7 linked regions of the Homo sapiens genome follow. The protein of the gene in region 2 interacts with the protein of the main gene of each other region in a biochemical or structural test. Each region holds a gene or a part of one and is shown on either strand. Other genes may lie near its edges. The genes, in order: ITK, LAT, FYN, SYK, PTPN1, GRB2 and PLCG2.

What was found.
Region 1: of the proteins of LAT (region 2) and ITK, one has a biochemical effect on the other in vitro, tested with the Homo sapiens proteins (one study listed by BioGRID).
Region 3: of the proteins of LAT (region 2) and FYN, one has a biochemical effect on the other in vitro, tested with the Homo sapiens proteins (one study listed by BioGRID and IntAct).
Region 4: of the proteins of LAT (region 2) and SYK, one has a biochemical effect on the other in vitro, tested with the Homo sapiens proteins (one study listed by BioGRID).
Region 5: of the proteins of LAT (region 2) and PTPN1, one has a biochemical effect on the other in vitro, tested with the Homo sapiens proteins (one study listed by BioGRID and IntAct).
Region 6: the proteins of LAT (region 2) and GRB2 form a complex in vitro, tested with the Homo sapiens proteins (3 studies listed by BioGRID and IntAct, with this or other methods).
Region 7: the proteins of LAT (region 2) and PLCG2 interact in a biophysical measurement, tested with the Homo sapiens proteins (one study listed by IntAct).

Annotation. Positions count from the first base shown.
Region 1 is NC_000005.10:157,204,840-157,208,339, forward strand, and holds part of ITK (tyrosine-protein kinase ITK/TSK), read left to right. Parts: intron 1-3,500. UniProt on the Homo sapiens protein: Tyrosine kinase that plays an essential role in regulation of the adaptive immune response. Regulates the development, function and differentiation of conventional T-cells and nonconventional NKT-cells.
Region 2 is NC_000016.10:28,988,052-28,991,284, reverse strand, and holds the end of LAT (linker for activation of T-cells family member 1), read right to left. Parts: intron 1,759-3,233; coding exon 1,696-1,758; intron 1,512-1,695; coding exon 1,446-1,511; intron 1,353-1,445; coding exon 1,273-1,352; 3' UTR 1,266-1,272; intron 1,097-1,265; 3' UTR 501-1,096; downstream 1-500. UniProt on the Homo sapiens protein: Required for TCR (T-cell antigen receptor)- and pre-TCR-mediated signaling, both in mature T-cells and during their development.
Region 3 is NC_000006.12:111,866,953-111,870,452, reverse strand, and holds part of FYN (tyrosine-protein kinase Fyn), read left to right. Parts: intron 1-3,500. UniProt on the Homo sapiens protein: Non-receptor tyrosine-protein kinase that plays a role in many biological processes including regulation of cell growth and survival, cell adhesion, integrin-mediated signaling, cytoskeletal remodeling, cell motility, immune response and axon guidance.
Region 4 is NC_000009.12:90,874,819-90,878,318, forward strand, and holds part of SYK (tyrosine-protein kinase SYK), read left to right. Parts: coding exon 1-31; intron 32-2,752; coding exon 2,753-2,962; intron 2,963-3,500. UniProt on the Homo sapiens protein: Non-receptor tyrosine kinase which mediates signal transduction downstream of a variety of transmembrane receptors including classical immunoreceptors like the B-cell receptor (BCR).
Region 5 is NC_000020.11:50,579,883-50,583,382, forward strand, and holds part of PTPN1 (tyrosine-protein phosphatase non-receptor type 1), read left to right. Parts: coding exon 1-44; intron 45-1,382; coding exon 1,383-1,578; intron 1,579-2,809; coding exon 2,810-2,833; 3' UTR 2,834-3,500. UniProt on the Homo sapiens protein: Tyrosine-protein phosphatase which acts as a regulator of endoplasmic reticulum unfolded protein response. Mediates dephosphorylation of EIF2AK3/PERK; inactivating the protein kinase activity of EIF2AK3/PERK.
Region 6 is NC_000017.11:75,322,179-75,325,678, forward strand, and holds part of GRB2 (growth factor receptor-bound protein 2), read right to left. Parts: intron 1-3,500. UniProt on the Homo sapiens protein: Non-enzymatic adapter protein that plays a pivotal role in precisely regulated signaling cascades from cell surface receptors to cellular responses, including signaling transduction and gene expression.
Region 7 is NC_000016.10:81,908,291-81,911,790, reverse strand, and holds part of PLCG2 (1-phosphatidylinositol 4,5-bisphosphate phosphodiesterase gamma-2), read right to left. Parts: intron 3,376-3,500; coding exon 3,200-3,375; intron 1,272-3,199; coding exon 1,071-1,271; intron 1-1,070. UniProt on the Homo sapiens protein: The production of the second messenger molecules diacylglycerol (DAG) and inositol 1,4,5-trisphosphate (IP3) is mediated by activated phosphatidylinositol-specific phospholipase C enzymes. It is a crucial enzyme in transmembrane signaling.

The sequences.
Region 1 (3,500 bases), on a different chromosome or scaffold from region 2:
AAAAAACTAAAAACCAGACACCACAAAGCTTTCCTGTATTTGATAGGGTCTGCTTCTCGCATCTTGAATTTTTTTTATCTCAGTTCTGTTCCTCAGCTACTAAATCAAAGATCAGCTTCCGGGCTGAGGACCCAAAAACAGGAAGTAAAGACTGAATTCACTTTGGGAGAATTTGATGATGTAATGGGTCCCTGGATATCAACCAAGCACGCTCATATATCACAAATCTCTTGCGATAGTTAAGGCTTCCTTAACTTCTTTAATTGGGAAGATACCCTTTATTGAGGGCATCTGTTATAAGCCAGTTAATTTGTTGACATCATCCTATTTTATTCCCCAATCAACTCTCAAAAGGTAGGTATTATCCCCACTTATCAGATGTAAAAACCAGGGTTCTGGGAAGTTTAATGAATTGCCCAAAGTCACAGAGCTCTTATAGTAAGAGGCAGAGACCTACTTTAAACATAGCTTTCCCAAACGTGTGCTCATTTCACCATCATTTGCTACCTCCTTAAAAAAATAAGGTAGAATGGGGTTTGGGCCACAATCCTGAACACCATAATCCCAAATATTGAAATACAAAATGTAAAAATACCCAAAAATATAATTCTGGAAAAAATAATTTTAAAAACTTTTTTAAAAGACATTTGTTTACATTTTAAAGTGGATTTATTTGAGAAACATATGAAGACATGACGAAATGCTTCATAGGCCACCTTGTGCAATAAAATAGGCAATAATAATATACATATTTTTGCAAACATAAACACCCAAGTATACTAAGGACAGTCACATGGGTATAACAGTTATGAGCAGACAAACTATATTCCTAAAGAAATAGCTGGTATTCAAGGGGAACGCCTTCAGCTTTCGCCCATTCAGTATGATGTTGGCTGTAGTTTGTCATAGATGGCTCTTATTATTTTGACGTACGTTCCTTTAATATCTAGTTTATTGATAGTTTTTAACATGAAGCAATGTTGAATTTTATTGAAAGCCTTTTCTGCATCTATTGAGATAATCGTGATTTCTGCCTTTAGTTCTATTTACGTGATGAATTACATTTATTGATTTGCATATGTTGAACCAACCTTGCATTCCTAAAGCCTACTTGATCATGTAAAAAAGGATTAGCCTTTTTTTTTTTTTTTTTTTTGAGTCAGTATTGCTCTGTCACCTATGCTGGAGTGCAGTGTCATGATCTTGGCTCACTGCAACTTCTGTCCACCTCAGCCTCCCGAGAAGCTGGGACTACAGGTGTGCACCACCATATCCAGTTAATTTTTGTAATTTTTTGTAGAAACAGAGTTTCACCACGTTTCCCAGGCTGGTCTCGAACCCCTGGGCTCAAGTGATCCACCCTCCTCAGCCTCCCAAAGTGCTAGGATTACAGGCATGAGCCACCACGCCTGGCTGGATTAGCTTTTCGATGTGCTGCTGGATTTGGTTTGCAAGTATTTTCTTGAGAATTTTTGCTTCGATGTTCATCAATATTGGCCTGAAGTTTTCTTTTTTGTTGTATCTCTGCCAGGTTTTGGTATCAGGATGATGCTGGCCTCATAGAATAAGTTGTGGGGGAGACGCTCCTCCTCAATTTCTTGGAATGGTTTCAGTAGGAATTACATTGGCTCTTCTTTGTACATCTGGTAGAATTCGGCTGTGAATCCATCTGGTCCCAGGCTTTTTTTGGGTGGTAGGCTATTTATTACTGATTCAATTTGGGAGTTTGTTATGGATTTGTTCAGGGAATTAATTTCCTCCTGGTTCAGTCTTGGGAGGGTGTATGTTGTCCAGGAATGGATTCATTTTTCTAGGTTTTCTAATATGTGTGCATAGAGGTGTTCATAGTAGTCTCTGATTATTTGTATTTCTGTGGGGTTAGTGGTAACATCCTCTTTGTCATTTCTAGTTGTGTTTAATTGGATCTTCCTTCTTTTCTTCTTTATGAGTATAGCTAGTGGCCTATCTATCCTATTAATTTTTTCAAAAAACCAACCCTTGGATTCATTGATCTTTTGAATAATTTTTTGTGTCTCAATCTCCTTTGGTTCAGCTCTGATTTTGGTTATTTCTTTTCCTGTATCTTAATTACAGAGATTATGACACAAATGTATACATTTGTCAAAACTCACTGAAATGTACATTGGTAAATTTTATTATATGTAAATTATACTTTAATAAAGCTGATTTTTAAAACAAAAAAACTAATATGCAATATATTTCACCTTTAAATTTTTTTAAAAAAGAAACAGCTTATATAACCATGGTCATCTGAAATGCTATGATAGACAACCTAAGTCTTTTAATGAGATTAATCAAAAACAGCAGAAGAAAATTCTGTCCCAACTCTCAGAGACAGACTAATTTGCCTTCAGTATTTGTTCTCTTAGGGTCCCTGGCTGATTCAATGGTGTCCACCAACACTGAGGGCAGATCTCCCCCACCTCGCCCATTCTGATACACATACTAGTCTACTCTGGAAACACCCTCACAGACACACCCCAAAATAATGCTTTATCACGTATCTAGATACGTCTCTTTTTTTTTTTTTTTTTTTTTTTTTTTGAGTCTTGCTCTGTCGCCCAGGCTGGAGTGCAATGGTGCGGTCTCCACTCACTGCAAGCTCCGCCTCCCGGATTCACGCCATTCTCCTGCCTCAGCCTCCAGAGTAGCTGGGATTATAGGCGCCCGCCACCACACCTGGCTAATTTTTGTATTTTTAGTAGAGGTGGGGTTTCACCATGTTGGGCAGGCTGTCTCGAACTCCTGATCTCAGGTGATCTTCCCGTGTCGGCCTCCCAAAGGGCTAGGATTACAGGCGTGAGCCACCATGTCCAGCCTTAGATACTCCTTAATCCAGTCAATTTGACACCTAAAATTAAGTCTACAAGTCCATCCCTTGTCTATTTGGCACCCATACATATCTTAAACCACACGTAATTTCCAAATGAAGACAATAACAAAGTAATAGTTCTGCCTAACAAGATGCAACTAACATAATGAGGCTATCCTGTGTACAACAGAAAATTCACTAATCGTGATTTTTGAGATTTTAGATGTTAAGGACTTAGACTTCAGGGATTTTTATCATTCAGGATTTCAGCATTCAGGACTATGACATTCAGAATCGTGTCTTTTGGGATTGATTGGTAGTGGGTATAATGACGTATTTTGCAACTGGTTCCATAGCTGAATTCCATAGCTGAATTCTCAATGGCAGCTCAATTCTAGGTACCTGTGAGAGGCTTCTTCCATCCAGAAGCACTTTCCTAACTATCTTTCCTTGGAGCCTGATAGACCACCAATGGAATTTGTTCCATTGGCTAAAGCATCAAATCCCCTGAGATCCATTCTCCAAGCACAAGGATCCTTAGAAATAGGTAACATGTAACATCATTATAAATCACAAATACCATCATGTGAATTAGTTATCAGGGAAATACAGCTAGCAAGTTTCCAAGGAAATGAGACACAGGCCCAGTAGTATTTGATGGGGAGGT
Region 2 (3,233 bases):
AGTGGGGGCCTGTAATCCCAGCTACTCAGGAGGCTGAGGCAGGAGAATTGTTTGAACCCAGGAGGCGGAGGTTGCAGTGAGCCAAGATCACGCCACTGCACTCCAGCCTGGCGACAGAGGGAGACCCCATCTCAAAAAAAGAAAAAAAAAAAAAAGGAAAAAGAAAAAACAAACACACAATCTCTAAAACTACATGGAATGAGATTGGGAAAGGAGTGAATTGCAGAGGAAAGCCAAGGTGAAATTCCCAAAATAAGGGGAAATGGATCCCGGACAAGTAAAGGCAATAGATGCTCACCACGCCCTTGCTCCTCAGGATGAGGTTCACAGAACAGCAGCATCAGAATCACACAGGAGAGGCTCAGAAATGCAAAGTCTCAGGCCACGTCCTAGGCGAACTGAGTCAGAACCCACCCCACAGCAAAGTCTGCCGGTGAGTCACCTACCCATCAAAGTCTCAAAAGTGCTGTGCTGCATATTAACTTTTTCAGTTACTTAGACAATTTTTTAAGTTCTGTTTTATTGAGAACCACAAAAGGTAAGAACTAAGAGAGTCCTCCCAGGTCATCAGGTCCCATCCCTTGGTCTAAGGATGGTGAAACCATTGTCACAGCCAGCAGCTGCCGTGTTCTGGGACTGTCTCATGGGGCAATGTGTCCTCACCCCCAGCAGTGCCAGCCCAGGTCAGAAGGCTTCATTCAGAAGGGGGGTGTCACAGCACCTGGCTGAGCCCCCATGGAGGATGGAGACCCACAGATACACACAAACACACAGAGACATCTCCAAATCTCTGACTCAGACTCGCACACAGGCACACACAGACGCACGCTCAACACAGACACACGCAGGCCTTTATTCTATTACACAGAGTAGGGCTGGGGCCAGGGCAGGTCATTCTCAGGCTGCGTCAGAAGGTGCAGAGCGTTCGGGGGACACAGGCCGAACCCCAAAGTGATAATAAGTTACGGGGGGATTTCTCAGGCTGTTGTCAGGCTGGAGCAAGGGCAGGACGCCATGTGAGGACCCCAGAGCCACTTCCAGCTGCCCAGCTCAGCCGTCCCAGGCAAGCCTGGTTCCAGGACAGACTCGGCCTCCACTGAAACACACCAGGGCAGGGAGGGATACGGATCAGGAGGCTGACGGGGTTCAGCAGGTACCCAGAGACAGAGGGACAAGCCAGAGGTAGGGTTGGGCAAGGGGGTCCTGGAGGGAAGGAGTAGAGCCTGTGGGCCCAGGGCAGGGTGGGGACAGGGCAGGCCTCTCACCAGGCCCTCAGTTCAGCTCCTGCAGATTCTCGTAATCTGGAGCCCCCTCTTCCTCCACTTCCTCTGCCTCCTGGGAACTCAGGGCGGCTGTAAGGGAGGGGAGGTTGGTCTCCAGCTTGCAAGCTATCCCCCCAAGCCCAAAGCAGCTACCCCAGCTCCTGCCCCTCCCGCAGAACACACCAGGCTCAGTCTTAGCCGCTCCAGGATGCAGTTCCTGGGACACATTCACATACTCCCGGCTGCCATCTGTGGGGACAGATCAGAAGGAGGGGCAGCCACGCAAAGGGGTCAGGAGGGCGAGAGAGCAAGGGGACGCCCAGACAGAGGGGGCAGAGGGTGTGGGTAGCCCCAGGGTGGGATCTGGTCACACTGAGAGCATGGTGGGGCAGCGGGGTGCAGGGGCAGGCACCGACAAGCACCGGTCACTCACCCAGAGACGCTTCTGCGCTCTCCCCGCTCTCCGGAACGTTCACGTAATCATCAATGGACTCCACTGTGGAAAAGCCAGGCCCACCTCGGCACTGTGACCAGAGACCCTTGGCCACAGGTTCCCAGAGAACCCCCAACCTCAGCCATGCAGAGCTCCCCAACGGTAGACCCCAGAGGCTTCCCACACAGCCACCCCCATTAGCCCCACAGAATGAAGAGAGGGGACTCCAGGCTGGCAAGGATGGTGTTGGTGATGGTGATGGTGGCCTGGACAAGGGCAAGGGCTGTGGAGAGGGAGGGAGGAGGTCCACTTGACTGGGACTGAGGAGAGCTCACAAAGGGTCAGGCCCCAGCACAGCCCCTAGGCTGGGGAGCAGGGATGTAGTGCGGCTCGGAGCAGTGGGAGTTTGGTGGCGTGTGTGGAGGGGACATGACACACTAGGCCCAGCAGGCACCTCCTCCCCCCGACCCCCATCCCCACCTGCCCCCTGCCAGCCACTGCCTATGTCTCACTCCCATGTCAGCCCTTCATGGCGCCTGTCACCATCCATGTTATTTGGGAGCTTTTTGTTTGTTTTTGTTTTTCTTGAGACAGGGTCTCGCTCTGTTACCCAGGCTGGAGTGCAGTGGTGCAATCTCGGCTCACCGCAACCTTGACCTCCTGGGCTCAGATGATCTTCCCACCTCAGCTCCTACCAGGCCAGGCTAAATTTTGGAATTTTTGTAGAGATAGGGTCTCCCTATGCTGCCCAGGCTGGTCTTGAACTCCTGGGTTCAAGTGACCCACCTGCCTCAGCCTCCCAAAGTGCTGGGATCACAGGCATCAGCTACCACGCCTGGTTATTTGGTTCTTTTATTTTGTTTATTTATTTATTTTTGAGATGGAGTCTCCCTCTGTCACCTAGAGGGCTGGAGGGCAGTGGGGTGATCTTGGCCCACTGCAACCTCTGCCTCCCGGTTCTAGCAATTCTCCTGCCTCAGCCTCCTGAGTAGCTGGGATTACAGGTGCCCGCCACCACGCCCTGCTAATTTTGGTATTTTTAGTAGAGACTGGGTTTCGCCATGTTGGCCAGGTCAGTCTCGAACTCCTGACCTCAGGTGATCCCCCCACCTTGGCCTCCCAAAGTGCTGGGATTACAGGTGTGAGCCACCGTGCCCGGCCTATTTGGTTCTTTTATGTGTTTCTTGTTTGTTTTTGAAGACCGCCCCGGTTCAATCCCAGCTCCAGCACTAACCAACCACATAACCTCAGCCAAGGGACCTTACCTCTCTGTGCCTCAGTTTTCTCCTCTGTAAAATAGGGCCTGTCACACAGCAGTGCTGTTAAACAGATAAACCCTGTATCCCACAAAAGGGACAACTGGAGCACAGGAGGGCGCGGGCAGGCCCGGGAGCCCCAGGGCAGTCAGATTAGTGAGTGAACACATGTCAGACTCTTAGCAAGGCATGCAGGAGGCCCTCGGTGAATCTTAGCTATTTTATCTTTTTTTTTTTTTTTTAACACAAGGTCTCACTCTGTCACCCAGGCTGGAGTGCAGT
Region 3 (3,500 bases), on a different chromosome or scaffold from region 2:
CAGGTGTAACAAATAGGCCTGCAAATATATAATGGCTCAAAAGCAATAGACGTTTATTCTTGCTCATTTAATAGTCAAAAATTCATGTTTCTGGTCGGTAGGTGGCTTTCCTCCATGCAGTGACTCTGGGTCCCACACCCCTATCTTGTAGCTCCACCATCCCATAGCTTATCATCGTAACCTGTTTCAGTTTACAGAAGGGGCAACAGAGAGTAGACGGGGCACACCCACTTTTAAAATACCTTAGCCTGGAAGTGCCACCATCACTTCCTCTCACATTCTTTACTTGAGGGCTAGTTATATGGCCACATTTAATTGCAAGGGAGCCTGGGAAATGTAGTTTAGCCATGTGCTCAGAAAAAAGATACAGAATAAATGTATTTTTATTGAACAGCTTTGTCAAACACTGCCACTTATCAAGGCACATTCACTGCCCTCAAGAAACTTATAGGCTAATGGGAATTAAATAGAAACCTAGAGCGGACACCCGTCATTGCTTTTCTTTTGATTTTATAAGTTTAGATCTTTTCATCCTAAGCATGTTTCAAAAATCTTACTTTTTGTCATGTTTCAAATTTTATGTTTCAAATGTTGCCAATTCCTACTCAATAATCCCATGTGATACAATCATCTGATGCTTCCTGTGTTGACTTTGATGTGGTTCTTTTACTCCAAAAGCACCTTTCTTGGCTTCATTTTTCATCTGGTCATTCTGTAGACTCCCAAAGTTGCTAGGAGAGTCCTTAGAAATCACACTCCTTCTGGATGTTGCAGCTCACGCCTGTAATCCCAGCACTTTGGGAGGCTGAGGTGGGTGGATCACTTTAGCCCAAGAGTTTGTTATCAGCCTGGGCAACATAGTGAGACCTCGTCTCCACGAAAAATCTTTTAAAAACTATCCAGGCATGGTAGCATGCATCTGTGGTCCCAGCTACTCAAGAGGCTGAGGTGGGAGGATCACTTGAGCCTGGGAGGTAGAGACTGCAGTGAGCTGAGGTCATACCACTGTACTCTAGCCTGGGCTCCAGAGTGAGACCCTATCTCAAAAAGAAAAACAGAAATCACAGTCCCACTCCCTCTTAATTGGAAGAGGAAATTAATTAGCCTGAGAGGTGAAACTCCTTGCCCCAAGGCCTTGCAGCTTCTTAACGGAAGGGCAGGAGGCTCAGCCAGCCAGCTCTTCAGGCCCACATGGGTCTCCTCTGTCACTCAGCTGCCCTCTTTGTCTGTGAGTCTTGCATATTCCACGGAGGTTAAGTGAGCTTCCAAATCTCCATGAGCAGGGTTCTAGTGTTCTGGGTAGTCCCTGTTCTCCACAGGCTTCCAAATTGTTGGAGCAATTCCATTCATACCAGCCATCATAATTGTTAATGCACTTTTTTTTGCCATGAATACTTCATTATATTCATCTGTTCTGCAGACATTAGCCTAGTATGTTACTTTGTGCAAGGCACTGGGGAGATGAGGTCCTGGAAATGAATACTTCTGCTGTCCTTGCTTTTCAGAAGTTCACGGTCTACTAGAAGAGATAAAAATAATTAATAATTGTTAACATTTGTTGAGCATTTACTATATGCCAAGCACTGTTTAAGCTCCGATCTTAACAATAATAATATGAAGTGGTTTCACTTATAATCTCCGTTTTACAGATGGGAAATTGAAGCAAACTTTAGTAGCTTGTTAAGTAACTAATTCAAGATCATACAGCTACTAAGTGGTAGAGTCAGGATTCAGGTCCAATTAGTTTGGTTCCAAAGCCTTTGCCCTTAGCCACTAGGTAATATTCAAAATACTACATATAATGATGATATTAAAATACGTTATGTGCCATAAGGGAGGGTGACTGAAATGCTTTAGAAACTAAGACTTTTGGTTGATGAGAAATATAATTTTATAGCCAAATAGAAATACAATATTCATCCCTACCCTCCTTCCATTCAGACACTTATCTACTACTTACCTGGGAAATACAAAATTAAATTAAACAATGGTAAAGCAAGGCATGTCGATACTGGAAATAATTTTACTCTGTGTGATTATTTAAAGCTGGGTCTTTCTGTGGTACACAATTAGGTCTGTATAAGTTTATGAATTGTCTACATACTTACTCATTTAACAGCATTCATTCATTGCGTATTCTATTTGCCAGACAATTAATTCGATGGTTCAAGGCAAAAGAGATGTGATCCTGTCCCGAAGGAACTTACTTGCTAGTTTTGCAGAGCTATAAAGGAGTCTCTGACCAATGTTAGAAATGCTGGGATTTTAGGGGTCCATGTAGGATGGCAGAGAGTGTGCAGAATGGAGCATGAACCTGGAAAAGAGGTGGGCAAGTGGGATAGCCAAGCAGAGAAGGCTGGAAGAGGAGGGGTCTGAAGGCAAGATGAGTAGAGATGGCTAGGTGAGTGTTGTGGGAAGCTCCCTGTCCCAGAAAGAACAGCCCAGAGGGCGAATGCACAGACCTTTTGGGGAACTGCAGTTAGTTCAGGGCTGTTTGGAGTGGTACAGAGATGGACAAAGGGAAATGACAGAGCTGAAGGAGAAACTGAGAAAGATTCTTGTACGTACTTTATCCTGAGTGCCATTTAAGAGTTGTAAGTGGAGATGTGGCTTTGATGTGATTGTATTTTTATAAAGATCTGGCCACAGTATGGGCCTTTGACCGAGGGCAGGCAGAACTAATGCAGGGAAGGTAGTTATGGAAACTTAAATGAGTAGTAGATGAGGGTCTAAATGGAAGGAAAGGAGGTGCAGATGGAGCAAAAAAGAATTAGAGAGCAGTAGACAGGGTGTAGGGGTAGGTAGAAAAGAATTTCTCTGGGAAATTAGGTAGAGACAAGCAGTCCAATAAGGAAAGCAGGGGGCAGGTATCTAAGCGATGACTTTATCTTAAACACTTTAGACTTCCAGGTGTAGTAGCTCATAGGCAGGTAAATAGAGAGGTCTGGAGTGAGGGAAGAGGACTAGGTCTTTTTTTTTTTTTTTTTTTTTTTTCCCGAGACGGAGTTTCGCTCTTGTTGCCCAGGCTAGAGTGCAATGGCGTGATCTCAGCTCACTGCAACCTCCACCTCCCAGGTTCAAGCGATTCTCCTGCCTCAGCCTCCCGAGTAGCTGGGATTACAGGCACCCAACGCCACACCCGGCTAATTATTGGGGTTTCGCCACGTTGGCCAGGCTGGTCTCGAACTTCTGATTGCAGGGGATCTACCTACCTCAGCTTCCCAAAGTGCTGAGATAATAGGCATGAGCCACTGCTCCCAGCCAGGACTAGGTCTTGAATATAAATTCGTTAGCAAACAAATTACAAAAATTGAAGCCATGGATGTGGGTGAGGTCACCCAGGGAGAATGTGTGGAGTAGAAAGAGCAGAAAGGGCAGAGAGCAAGCCCAGGAACAGAGGAGGAGTCAGGCCCAGAATGGGAGAGGAGCCTGCGGAGTACTAGACCAGCTTCAGAGTTGAGCAACATAAAGAACAAAAAATGCAGTTGGATTTAGCACTG
Region 4 (3,500 bases), on a different chromosome or scaffold from region 2:
CTGTGAAAAAGGGCTACTACCAAATGAAAAAGTAAGTTGCTATGTTCCACCAGCCTCACCCTCACATGAGCTCAGGTTCTAGACATGACTGAGAATAACAAAATGTAACCTGGCATGACTAAACCCTTTTTTTATTAATGCTACCATTCTTGTTAATTTCTGGTACTATTATAATGAAAGCGTCCATTACCTTTAATGGCAAAAACTGCAATTACTTTTGCACCAACCTAATAGTACATGCACCTTATGGAAAATTAGGAAATAGAAACAAGCAGAAACATAAGAAAATAAAAACATCAAATTGGCATGGTGGCTCATGCCTGTAATCTTAGCAATTTGGGAGGCTGGGATAGGAGGATTGTTTGAGGCCTGGAGCTTGAGACCAGCCTGGGCAACATAGCAAGACCCTGTCTCTACAAAAAAAATAAATAAATAAATAAATAAATAAAACATAAAAAATTAGCCAGACATAGTAGTGCACACATATACTTCCAGCTGCTCAAGAGGCCAAGAAGCCAAGGCTGCAGTGAGCCATGATTGCACCACTGCACTCTAGCCTGGGTAACAAAGCAAGGCCCTGTTTCAAAAAACAAAACAAAAAAAAGAAAAGAAGAACATCATATTTGTATAATACCATCCCAACACTACTACTGTTAACTAAACATTACTACTGTTAACTTAATCTTATTGTATATATTTTTAGATCTTTATTTGTACACACAGATATTATTTAATTAAAACAAAATCATTCCATTATAACAATAGTTTTTACATTTATTTTCTTTAATTTTATAGTTACATCTCATTTTTCTTACATGAAAATTATTGATTCCAAATATGATTAGTATAATTATTTATTGGCTTTATCCTATGATTTCAGATAACAATACATATTATACAACAGTTAAAATTGCTAAATTTCGAAAATATCTTTGTATTTCTTTTGGTCTTTAGAAGGTACCCAACATAGAATGTACAAGTAAAACTACTGGTTTCTAAAGTCCTTTGAAATACACCCTCTGTTTGAATTGGTATGATACTAATATGAATGTGGTTAGATTTAGTAGCTTCATGGTATTTCAAATGTAAGGGATTTTTGTAAAAAAAAAATTCGTGAGTAGGTAATTTTTATGATTCAAGGGTTAAAAATATAGACAAAAATATACACAGACATGCGTGCTTTCCGGCCGGGTGCCGTGGCTCATGCCTATAATCCCAGCACTTTGGGAGGCCAAGGTAGGTGGATCACCTGAGGTCTGGAGTTCAAGACCATCCTGGCCAACATGGTAAAACCTCGTCTCCACTAAAAATACAAAAAATTAGCTGGGTGTGGTGGCATACACCTGTAGTCCCAACTACTTAGGAGGCTGAGGCAGGAGAATCACTTGAACCTGGGAGGAAGAGGTTGCAGCCAGCCAAGATCACACCATTGCACTCCAGCCTGGGCAACAAGAGTGAAACTCTGCCTCAAAAAAAAAAAAAAAAAAAGAAAGAAAGAAAAAAGAAATGCTTGCTTTCCAATCTGTCCCTTCGATTTGTTTTTGTGCATGTGTGTGTGTGTAAATTAGATACACATACATGTATGTATACACACACAAACATACACACATATGTATACATTCACAAGTATATACATGCGCACATATATACACACACAATCAAAATTGGCTGTGATACTTATTTTAAAATATATGTTTGTATATCACAGTCATTTTGTACAATGAGTAAAAATGTTTCTGTATTAATCCTAAGCTTTTTCAGATTATGAAAGGTTGTGATCTTTATTCTGTGCTTAAATTTGTGAATTAACATAGACATGACTGTGGACATAATTTCAACTAGAGAATTTGGGGAGAGGAGAGGCTCTCTCGGTCAATTTGGGGCAAAATGATGTCTTTACAATACTGAGTCTTTCAATCTATAAACACAGCCCATCTCTCCATTTACCAGGTCTTCTTCAGCCTCTCTCAGGAGAGTTGTTTACCTTTTCAATGTATTACATTGAAATATATGCTTTTAAATTCTGCACCTAGAAATTCACTTTCAACAATTATGAAAGGCATTTTATATTCACATTCATTACATGTAATCTGAGATGGTGAATCCCAAGATGTTACAGGAATTCGTACATGTCATCGTTGGTGAAGTTTATTTACAAGTTATTTAAATATTTTACAGTTTAGGGTTTTTGCTTGGTTGGGACATTCTTCAGTACTGTTCTTCACCATTCTTTTTATTTTATATTATTTTTTAGAAACAGTGTTTCACTGTGTCACCCAGGCTGGAGTGAAGTGGCAAGAAGCTCACTGCAGCCTTGAACTCCTGAGTCCAAGTGATTCTCCCACCTCAGCCTCCCGAGCAGCTGGGACTACAGGCTTGCACTGTCACACCTGGGTGATTTTTTTTAGAGATGGGGGTCTCACTATGTTGCCCAGGCTGACCTTGAACTTCTGACCTCAAGCAATCCTCCCCTTTCAACCTCCCAAAGTATGGGGATTGTCAGCATGAGCCACCATGCCCAGCCCCCACCATTCTTTTTTAGTAATGGAGTATTACTCTCATTGTCTATAAAATAAGGGAATATAGGTTGGAAGGCCAGCCATCCATTACAGGCTTCTGAAGACACATTGCCACTCTGTGGCAGGTATTTCCGTGGGACTGTTTCCACAGGGGGATTATGCTTCACAGGATAAGATTATCTAGAAGTGAGGCATTTTGGAAAGTTTCTTGTGTGTTATGATTTCTCTTGCAGAGTTGTGAAAACCGTGGCTGTGAAAATACTGAAAAACGAGGCCAATGACCCCGCTCTTAAAGATGAGTTATTAGCAGAAGCAAATGTCATGCAGCAGCTGGACAACCCGTACATCGTGCGGATGATCGGGATATGCGAGGCCGAGTCCTGGATGCTGGTTATGGAGATGGCAGAACTTGGTCCCCTCAATAAGTATTTGCAGCAGAACAGGTATTGTCAGGTGCCCCCACACATCTGGAAGCTATCCCCTAAGGGACAGGGCCCACCCCTGGATGGGCCGAGCAGCCTGATTTCCTTGGGAAGCCTTCCCACCCTCCTGTGCCTTCCTTTATTGGTCCATACTCAGGGACCTTGACAGAGGGACAGGGAGACATAGTCTTTGGATTCAGCTCTGTTAGCTCTAGTTGTTCAGAGAAGAACTCATTTGACAGTTTTGTCTTTTTTTTCTTCCTGTAGTCATTCAGTCTTGGCCTAGTGATAGACTCAGCCTCAGAATATCTTGACATGGAATCTCCTTTCTCACTGGGAAGAACACTTTCTTTTTAAAGAAACATTTTAAATAAATGCTTTTCTAAGAGGTGACAGTTAAGTCTTATCTGTTTGGCTGACCTTATGTTCTCATGAGTGATGACTTCTGAAAATACCAATCACTGCTAATTGATTACATCCATCAAGGGAGTAATTGTGTTCTTCTCATCTAAAGCTGTTGTTGAGATGAAGAAACTCACTTGGAGTAAGACAGAATGAT
Region 5 (3,500 bases), on a different chromosome or scaffold from region 2:
GAAAAAGGAAGCCCCTTAAATGCCGCACCCTACGGCATCGAAAGGTAATATGATTGGGTCCCAGCTTGTTGGGGTGAGGGGAAATGACTTTCTGTTCTAGAAACACACGCTGGTACTGAAACCCTGTGGATGCAGCCTCCTGTTGGCAAGCAGCGCTTCCGCATCCTTGGGGAACAGGGCGCGTGGACCACAGCCACTCCACTCCTGGCTGCTGGAGGTCCGGTATTGGGCACAGGGTGGCCGCAGGACATGAGCCACTTCTGTGGGCTTCTAGTGCCACCTTGTGGTGCTTGTTGGAATGAGGGGCTCGGAGCCACCGAGTAGGGTTTTTCTGCCCCCCCTGACGACAGCGCCCTCCCCCAGGTTTCCGGACAGTCCTGAAATGTGATGTCCAGGCTTGAGTGCCCTCAGTCCCCACAGTGGTCCTTTGGGGAATGTAACCTTTTTTATGTGGTCTTGATTAAATCCCATTTTACTTCCTTGCAGGTTAACAACCATTATTGAGTACCTATTGATATGTGTGGTGTACTGAGTTAACTAGAACATGTCCCCTGGTCTGTGTTCTAGACCATCTTGCTGGGAAAAAGGCAGACCCAAAGCATATTTTGGTGGGGGCCCATGGACAGTGATGTGATAGAGGTGTCCGCTGAGGTGGTCAGGGAAGGCTGCTTGCAGTAGGTGGCCGTGCACGGAAAGTTTGCAGAATGAGCAGGTGTTAGTTCCAGCTGGAGATGACTGCCGGCTGTGCCCTTGGTACCTGCTTTCTGGAGGGAAGTTTTAAGACGTGTGCATACTTGACCCAGCAGTTGTATACATGGAGAAATTTACTTTGCAGCAACTCTCAAAACAAGCGTGTAAAGATGTGTATAGGTAGTTGTGTTTGTTGTGGCATTGTTTGTAGTAGTGAAAAATTAGAGACAGGCCAATGATATAACCAGGGACCTGATCAATTATGTTCTCTCCCGGTGTTGGGATATTCTGTAGCTCTTAAAGAATGAGATCTGGGTGTACTGATGTGGCCAGACATTGCAATTGCAGTACATGAGAAGGCAAATCATACAGTAGTGTGTACACCAGTGAGTCCTCCAGCCAGATAAATCCTCACAGTGACCAGTCGCCCAGGCACCTTGTGAACCCTACCCTGGGTGTGGGTGCTATCTGAAGTACCTGGGGGAGGGGGTGACAAGTGGACTTCAGGCTGATGTGGGCCCTGGCCTGGCCCTCCCTCCAAGCAGAGGGGGCTGGCTCGCTGGAAGGTTAACATCATCCAACTCTGTCTACACGTGGCTTGTTTTTTCCTAGAATTCCTGCCACAATAGCAGCATCCTTGCCATTCATTTTCTCCAAAGTGAGTAACCCATCTCTGCCCTCTGATTCCTCAGCATGAGTCAAGACACTGAAGTTAGAAGTCGGGTCGTGGGGGGAAGTCTTCGAGGTGCCCAGGCTGCCTCCCCAGCCAAAGGGGAGCCGTCACTGCCCGAGAAGGACGAGGACCATGCACTGAGTTACTGGAAGCCCTTCCTGGTCAACATGTGCGTGGCTACGGTCCTCACGGCCGGCGCTTACCTCTGCTACAGGGTATGTTTCCACTGACAGACGCGCTGGCGAGATGCTCGTGTGCAGAGAGCACTGGCCGCTAGCCCGATGGTAGGATTCAGTTCTGTGGTGCATCTGAGCCAGTCTCAGAAGAAACAGATCAAAGGTTTTTAAAGTCTGGAACTGTGGAAGGGCTAACAAGAGAATTAAGGATCGATGCACTGGGGTTTTAAGGAGCCCTCTGGTCCCAAGAATATAAGAGTCTAATCTCAGGGCCTTAACCTATTCAGGAGTAAGTAGAGAAAATGCCAAATACGTCTGTTTCTCTCTCTCTTTTTTTTTTTATTCCTTTGTTTTTGGAAAAAAATAGAGTTACAACACATTGTTGTTTTTAACCTTTATAAAAAGCAGCTTTTTGTTATTTCTGGAACAAAAAAAAACAAAGTAGGCACTTATGAAACTTTCTCATACCCTTAGGTGATGTAATCAGCCATATAATTTATATTTGATTTCCCAGGGAAGGAATCCCAAACTTTTACGAATGTAAACTCCCTTGGAGAAGAGGGTTAGGACGCTGTTGCGCTCAAGCCCCCCTCAGCTGTGTGCACACTGAGCCAGGACAGGGTCTTTGAGCTTTCCCACTATAAGAAGAACAGCAACAAAAGGCCGTCTAGAAAAACAGAACCTGCCTCTGCTTCTGCTCAGGGTGTCCCCGCTGGGTTTCCATTGTCCTTTCTCCATTGCTCCCTCCTGTGACAGCCATCTTGCTCATGTACCAGCCCTCATCACCCCATCCCCATAAATGGGTGTCCTCGAGGCCTCTGCCTGGGGGTCAGAGGTCACCACAGGGTGGCCATTGGCATGTCAACCCGCTGTTAATTCAGAGAAGTGGGCTCCACCTCATTGGGAGAAGTGCCATTTCAGCAGAAATTCACACGTTAGACGTGTGTTGCTGTTAAGTAAGGGGAAGAGAGAGGACTAGCCTCAGAGCTCTGGCCATGGAAATGACCTCCTAAGACTTTTTCGTGGTTTTAAATATTTTACCTCTTTCCAGGTGGCATCTGAGTACATCAGATGGTTTTGCAAAATGCAAACAATTTTTTCCTTGGGGATGATTTTTGGGGAGAGGGGGCTACTGTAAAAAATAAAACCAAAACCCCCTTTGCTCCCTCGGAGGTTGAAGTTGCCGGGGGGTGTGGCCGGGGTCATGCATGAGGCGACAGCTCTGCAGGTGCGGGTCTGGGCTCATCTGAACTGTTTGGTTTCATTCCAGTTCCTGTTCAACAGCAACACATAGCCTGACCCTCCTCCACTCCACCTCCACCCACTGTCCGCCTCTGCCCGCAGAGCCCACGCCCGACTAGCAGGCATGCCGCGGTAGGTAAGGGCCGCCGGACCGCGTAGAGAGCCGGGCCCCGGACGGACGTTGGTTCTGCACTAAAACCCATCTTCCCCGGATGTGTGTCTCACCCCTCATCCTTTTACTTTTTGCCCCTTCCACTTTGAGTACCAAATCCACAAGCCATTTTTTGAGGAGAGTGAAAGAGAGTACCATGCTGGCGGCGCAGAGGGAAGGGGCCTACACCCGTCTTGGGGCTCGCCCCACCCAGGGCTCCCTCCTGGAGCATCCCAGGCGGGCGGCACGCCAACAGCCCCCCCCTTGAATCTGCAGGGAGCAACTCTCCACTCCATATTTATTTAAACAATTTTTTCCCCAAAGGCATCCATAGTGCACTAGCATTTTCTTGAACCAATAATGTATTAAAATTTTTTGATGTCAGCCTTGCATCAAGGGCTTTATCAAAAAGTACAATAATAAATCCTCAGGTAGTACTGGGAATGGAAGGCTTTGCCATGGGCCTGCTGCGTCAGACCAGTACTGGGAAGGAGGACGGTTGTAAGCAGTTGTTATTTAGTGATATTGTGGGTAACGTGAGAAGATAGAACAATGCTATAATATATAA
Region 6 (3,500 bases), on a different chromosome or scaffold from region 2:
CCTGGCCAACATGGAGAAATCCCATCTCTACTAAAAATACAAAAGTAGCTGGGCATGATGGTGCATGCCTGTAATCCCAGCTACTCGGGAGGCTGAGGCAGGAGAATCACTTGAACCTGGGAGGCCGAGGTTGTGGTGAGCTGAGATCGCGCCATTGCACTCCAACCTGGGTAACAAGAGTGAAACTCTGTCTCAAAAAAAAAAAAAAAAAGAGTCCATGTGCCCTGAACCCTACCAAATAAAAACAGCCGTACTTAAGACAAAGGAGTGTGACTTAACATCCTTTGAATAAAAAAATAATTAAAATCTTATATGCAGGAAGAAGGTGAGGAGGGCTGGAAATACTTTCAACAATTCTCTCGTAACTGGGAATAGTTCAAAGTAATGTTTTCCATTCAGGAATTTTAGCTCCACTCATGGGGAAAAGGTCTCTGAACAAAAGGACGTACTGGGACAATAAAAGAGGCCCAGACTTCAAAACCCAAAAGCTTCTCCATCACTAGATCACACCCTTTTATACTGGCAAGCAAAACCGGCAACAGCGTGGCTGGCTGGTACTAGCTCACAGGGTCTGTCACAGGATATTTGGCTAAAACACCAGCCTAGCGAGGGCGCTTCTGCCTGTCCTGTTCACCTGGCCGGGCACTCTCGGCATTCTCGGCCGGATGCGGTGGCTCATGCCTGTAATCCCAGCACTTTGGGAGGCCGAGGTGGGCGGATCATAAGGTCAGGATATCGAGACCACCATGGCTAACACAGTGAAACCCCGTCTCTACTAAAAATACAAAAAATTAGCCAGGTGTGGTGGCAGATGCCTGTAGTCACAGCTACTCGGGAGGCTGAGGCAGGAGAATGGTGTGAACCCGGGAGGAGGAGCTTGCAGTGAGCCGAGATTGGGCCACTGTACTCCAGCCTGTGCGACAGAGTGACACTCCATCTCATTAAAAAAAAAAAAAAAAAAAAAGGCATTCTCTGAGAGTGCTTGTTCAATGAATGAATGAGTCCCTCCTCTCCTTCAGTCTTTCAGCTGATGGAAACCAAAGGCTTCAGAAAATCAATCCGGCAGGTGGCAGCACTGAGCCTCAAGGAAGCCACTCAGCACAAGATGCCTCGCATTTGGAAAAAATACTGCTTTACATGTTAAGACAAAATGTGGAAGGTGAGAAAGCTTCATTAGCAAGGGTATATTCCACGGCACTTCTGGCCCCACAGAGGCCCACTTCCACCCATGCAATGCAGGTGGTTTCTAAGAGCCCAGGGCCCCAATAATGAGCAGTGTTTCAAATCACAGGCTCAAAACATCCTAAAACTAAGAAACATCTGACAACTGTTGATTCTTGAACCTTTTTTGCAGAGGTGTGTGTGTTGTTAAAGAGAGTCATGACACCTGCTTTGCTTCTAAAACAATAAATGCATTAAATCCTTAAAAGATTCTACTTGAGAAAATGGAAGTTTGAGAGTTTCTGCTGAGCAAACAGGCAGCGTCCAGCCGAGCACGTGGCTGCCCCCGTGGTTTTGGCCACCACCCAGTGATTTACTGCTTGTTCCCCTCATCTTATAAGGTTTCAGTTACACTTGGGTCAGTATAAAACTAAAGAAAGACAGGTGTCACACATGTTTTTCTTTTCTTTTTTTTTTTTTTTTAAAGATGGATGGAGTCTTGCTCTTTCACCCAGGCTGGAATGCAATGGCTCAGTCTCGGCTCACTGCAACCTCTGCCTCCTAGGTTCAAGTGATTCTCCTGCTTCAGCCTCCGGAGTAGCTGGGAATACAGGCATGTGCCACCACGCCTGGCTAATTTTTGTATTTTTTTAGTAGGGACAGTGTTTCACCATATTGGTCAGGCTGGTCTCAAACTCCTGACCTCATGATCGGCCCGCCTCAGCCTCCTAAAGGGCTGGGATTACAGGCATGAGCCACCATGCCGGGCCACAACTATAAATTTAAAATCTACGTTTCAAAAAAAAAATCTACATTTTAATCACACATTAAGTGGTTCTAAAACCAAATAAGATATTCAGTTTGTTTGTTTGTTTTGGGAGACACAGTCTTACTCTGTCACTCAGGCTGGAGTGTAGTGGCACGATCTTGGCTCATCTGCCTCTCGGGTTCAAGTGATTCTTCTCTCTCAGCCTCCTGAGTAGCTGGGATTACAGGCACACGCCACCACGCCGAGGCCATTTTTGTATTTTTTTTTTTTTTTTTTTTTTTAGTAGAGACAGGGTTTTACCATGTTCGCCAGGCTGGTCTCGAACTTCTGACCTCAGGTGATCTGCCTGCCTCGGCCTCCCAAAGTGCTGGGATTACAGGTGTGAGCCACCGCACCCAGTTTTTTTTTTTTTTTTTTTTTTTTTTTTGGAGACAGAGTTTTGCTCTTCGCCCAGGCTAAAGTGCAATGGCGCCATCTCGCCTCACTACAACCTCCGCCTCCTGGATTCAAATGATTCTCTGGCCTCAGCCTCCCAAGTAGCTGGGACTACAGGTGTGTGCCACTATGCCTGGGTTATTTTCTATTTTTAGCAGAAACAGGGTTTCACCATGTTGGCCAGGCTGGTCAGTTCATTTTTGAAATGGAAAAGTCTCACGCTTTACATCAGTTATAAATGGGAAATGGTGGCTGGAAGCAGTGGCTCCAGCCTGTAATCCCAGCACTTTGGGAGGTCGAGGTGGGTGGATCACCTGAGGTCAGGAGTTCAAGACCAGCCTGGCCAATATGGCAAAACCCCATCTCTACTAAAAATACAAAAATAAGCCGGGCGTGGTGTCAGGCACCTGTAATCCCAGGTACTCGGAGGGTGGGGCAGGGAGAACTGCTTGAACCTGGGAGGTGGAGGTTGCAGTGAGCTGAGGCATGCCATTGGACTCCAGCCTGGGGGACAGAGCGAGACTCTGTCTCAAAAATAAGTAAATAAAATAAAAGGAAAATGGTTTTCTATCCCCCATTCAAAAACAAAACAATCTTAATGTAATCTAAACTAAGTAGTGATCTGAGTGTTGAATCTAATTACTTCTTTATATATAACTGATGAAGTGATCTGCCGGACTCCTGGGGAGGGTCCTATGATAATACATTAACTAGAAAATAACTGAAAGTAAAAAACATGGAAATAACAATTTAATTCAAAATCCCGACTTCACAGCTGAGGTGTGAATTGTTTAGAATCTTCAAGTGCTGGTTTCTATTCTCCACACTCTCCATGGCGGCAGAACTTCCTGTCTTCTCCATTCCCTGCTTACCCGCTCCCTTTCACACCTGAACTTTCCACCGGGGAAATGCAAGCCCCACATCCCCTGCAGCAGCCTTCTTAAGTGACTGTGAGGGCCTAGGATGGGGCTGGTTGATTTAAGTCAGTGGACCTGAGCAAGGCAAGCCAAGGCAGCCGACAGGCGCTCCACTATCCCATTAGAGAGAGCTGCGGGAATCCCTTGGAGGGCAGAAGCTCAGGAGTGCTGGGCACTAGGGAAAACTGGCAGGCTCCAGCTGGCTGCAGGGAGCTGCT
Region 7 (3,500 bases), about 53 Mb from region 2:
GGAAATACAAAAATTAGCCAGGCCCAGTGGCGTGCGCCTATAATACCAGCTACTCAGGAGGCTGAGGCACAAGAATCTCTTGAACCTGGGAGGCAGAGGTTGCAGTGAGCTGAGATCGTGCCATTGCACTCCAGCCTGGGAGACAGAGCGAGACCCGGTCTCAAAATTAATTAATTAATTAATTAATTAATTAGCTGGGCACAGTGGCACACACCTGCAGTCCCAGATAGGAGGCTGAGGTGGGAGGATCACTTGAGCCCAGGAGCTCGAGGCTGCTGCGAGACGTGATTGTTCCACTGCACTCCAGCCTGGGCAACAGAGCAACACCTTGTCTCAAAAAATTGATTCATCTTCATCCACCCAAGCAGCCCAAACCTGAAAAGCCAGGCTCCCAGGGAGGCACAGTTATTGCCACGTGTCTCAGAAAATCGAAGACGGAGATCACAGCAGGAGTTTCACAAGGTTTTGGGTTGTTTTCGGGTTATTTCTTAAGATAAGAAATAGCAAGTTTTAAGAGGCAATCCATAGGAAAATGTGACAGAAAAAGTGAAAAAAAAAGTTGCTATAAGTAATACGGCCTCCTCGGAAATGGACATTTTTGCAGCTTTCTGCCTAAAAATTGTTTTTTCTTTATTCCCAGAATTTGTTGACCCTTCGCAAGACCTACCTTGATACTCATTTCACTAGATAAAAAAAATCAGCGGGAGACTCTTATAATCATTGTTTCCTTGTTCATTTTCAGAACAAACAGGAAGGAGCTCTGAAAGGTAAGAGAATATCCCCAGGCCAAAATGACCCTCTGAAAATCAAAGCCCAAAGTCTCGGGGCTATGAAGACAAAGTAGAAGAAAGGGAAAAGAGAAAAGGGGAGGAAAGAAAGAAAAGAGAAAAGGACACAGGTCATGGTGCCAGGAATTTGGAAACTGGCCACCTCGGCAATTTTGAGATGCCGGTGGGCTGGGGAGAGGGTGTCCTGGGGGACTGGCCCGGCTGAACCACCAGGCCAGCTTCTCTGCCTGGTGGAGCTAACCCGACCACCGCCTGCCTCCTGCTCCACCCTCAGACACGTACGGCTTGGACTCGTGGGGGTTGGGGTTGGGCACAGGGTCCGTGAGCCGCAGCTCGAACTCGGCGCAGCGCAGGTGCGTCTCGCGGTAGTGCTGGATGAGGGCATAGATGCTGCTGAAGGTGAGGTTGTCAGTCAAGTAGTATTTCAGGGTCCCGCCCTCCATGGTGGAGCGGATCCGGCAGTGCTGGACCCGGCCTGACCGCCTGCGGGGAGAGGACGCCATCAGTGCTGGGAGAACGCAGGCCAGGCCATTGCGGCAGCCAGGGCCTCAGAGGCGGGGACATTACATGTGGCCACACAACCTTCCCTCTGCTCCTAGAACAGACACAGGAGGCTGGGCGCAGTGGCTCATGCCTGTAATCCCAGCACTTTGGGAGGCCGAGACGGGTGGATCACCTGAGATTAGGAGTTCCAGACCAGCCTGGCCAATACAGTGAAATCTCGTCTCTACTAAAAATACAAAAATTAGCTGGGCATGGTGGTGCATGCCTGTAATCCCAGCTACTTGGGAGGCTGAGGCAAGAGAATCACTTGTACCTGGGAGACGAAGGTTGCAGTGAGCCGAGATCACGCCACTGCACTCCAGCCTGGGCGACAGAGCGAGACTCCATCTCAACAACAACAACAACAAAACCAGATGCAGGGCCTTAGTATAGGCTAGACCCTCAGCCTGGATTCCAGAACATTCTACCTACTTCCCCCACCCCACCCCACCCCATCCCCCTTTTATATATATAACTGCTTCTCTAGAGCCAGGATGCCTGGATTCAAATCCCAGCTCTGCCACATATGAACCAAGTGTCCTGGAGCAGGTCACCCGTGCTGTCTGAGCCACACTGTATTACTACCCCAGCGGTCTGACAGGAATGATAACAGTATCCACCTCAAAGAGGCATCCTGAAGAGTAAACGAGACCACACACACAAGGTGTCTCGAATACTGCCCAGCACATGGTAAGCATCATTTAGGTGTCCAGGATTATTTGCGTGTTATTAGTATTCTAATTTTCAGCCAGGTGCAATGGCTTACAGCTGTAATCCTAGCACTTCAGGAGGCCGAAGCCAGAGGATTGCTTGAGCTGAGTTCAAAACCAGCCTGGGCAACGTAGTGAGACTCCAGCTCTACAAAAAATTTAAAAGTTATTCAGGTGTCGTGGCATGTGCCTGTAGTCCCAGCTACTTAAATGGCTGAGATAGGAGGGTTGCTTGAGCCCAGGAGTTTGAGGCTGCAGTGACTGAGACTGCTCCATTGTACTACAGCCTAGGCAACAGAGCAAGACCCTATCACAATTTTTTTTTAAGTGACAGAATTATAATTTCCCTCTTTCAGGTCTCATCTTCTTTCAGGAAGGTTTTCCTAACCATTCCCCACGTCAGGGCATCAGAGCCTTCCTCACAGACTTTCACAAATCCCCCCAACTCACATTAAACCCCCCCAATAAAGGGAGGGATGTCCCTTTATGTTGCCTTGTTTCATTGCACTCATCACAACTATACTTGCAAATCATTTGAGTGACTGCTTTTTCATTGCCCATCTCCTTCAAAAGACGCTAGTGTCCAGGAGGACAAAGACATTGTCTGTCTGGCATAAGTACTGTGTCTAGCACAGGGCACGCCCTCAAGAAGTATCTTTTAATGCACTGAGACATGGATAAGTGGGTGGATGAATGAATGCACAAGCTCATCACAGCCTATGACGGCTTCAAAAGGACAGCCCTAGAGTCCTCGTTTTATGGAGGAGACAGAGATGCTAGAAGGTTGGCTGAATCATCCAGAGCCACATGACCCACTCCAGGGCTGGGATCGGGGAAAGTGAGTGAGACCACATCATCTAAGAGTAGGGTCAGATCTTGTCTTTGTTTAAAATGTTCATATTTTGTTCATCACAGACTTTTTTGCATTACTTTTGATTTTTTAAAAGATTGCCCTGAAATCTCATTAATCTGGGTTACAGTGCCGAAGTGAGTCATACCCACCTCACCCTTGTCCCGGCCTAGAAGAGCTAGACAAATGAAGCCTGGGATTCAGGTCCCAGCCTGCCCAATTCCTGCCTGAGCTAGAACCACTCGCCACCCTGCCTCATCGGTTGGCATGGAGAAGAAGGTAGGCGTTCCCTGGGTCGGGGGCATTACCAGAAGGACAGGGTGTAGTCATTGGGGAAGGTCTCGCTCTCCCGAACCAGGAAGGTGCCATCCTTGCCCCCCGTCTCCATGCAGTATTCCTGCAGCAACTTCTCGGCACTCGTCCTCTTCTCCACCTTCTTGTGGAACCATTTCTCCCCAAAATGTAGTTCTGTAGGGGGTATATCCTGGGCCGCAAAGAGAGGAGGGGTTTCTGAAAGCCTTGGACCAAACCCCAGCATCACTAGACAGGTCCTTCTGTCTCACCCTGACCCAGGGTACCAGATAACATAGAGAGGCCAGCCTCAGCTGG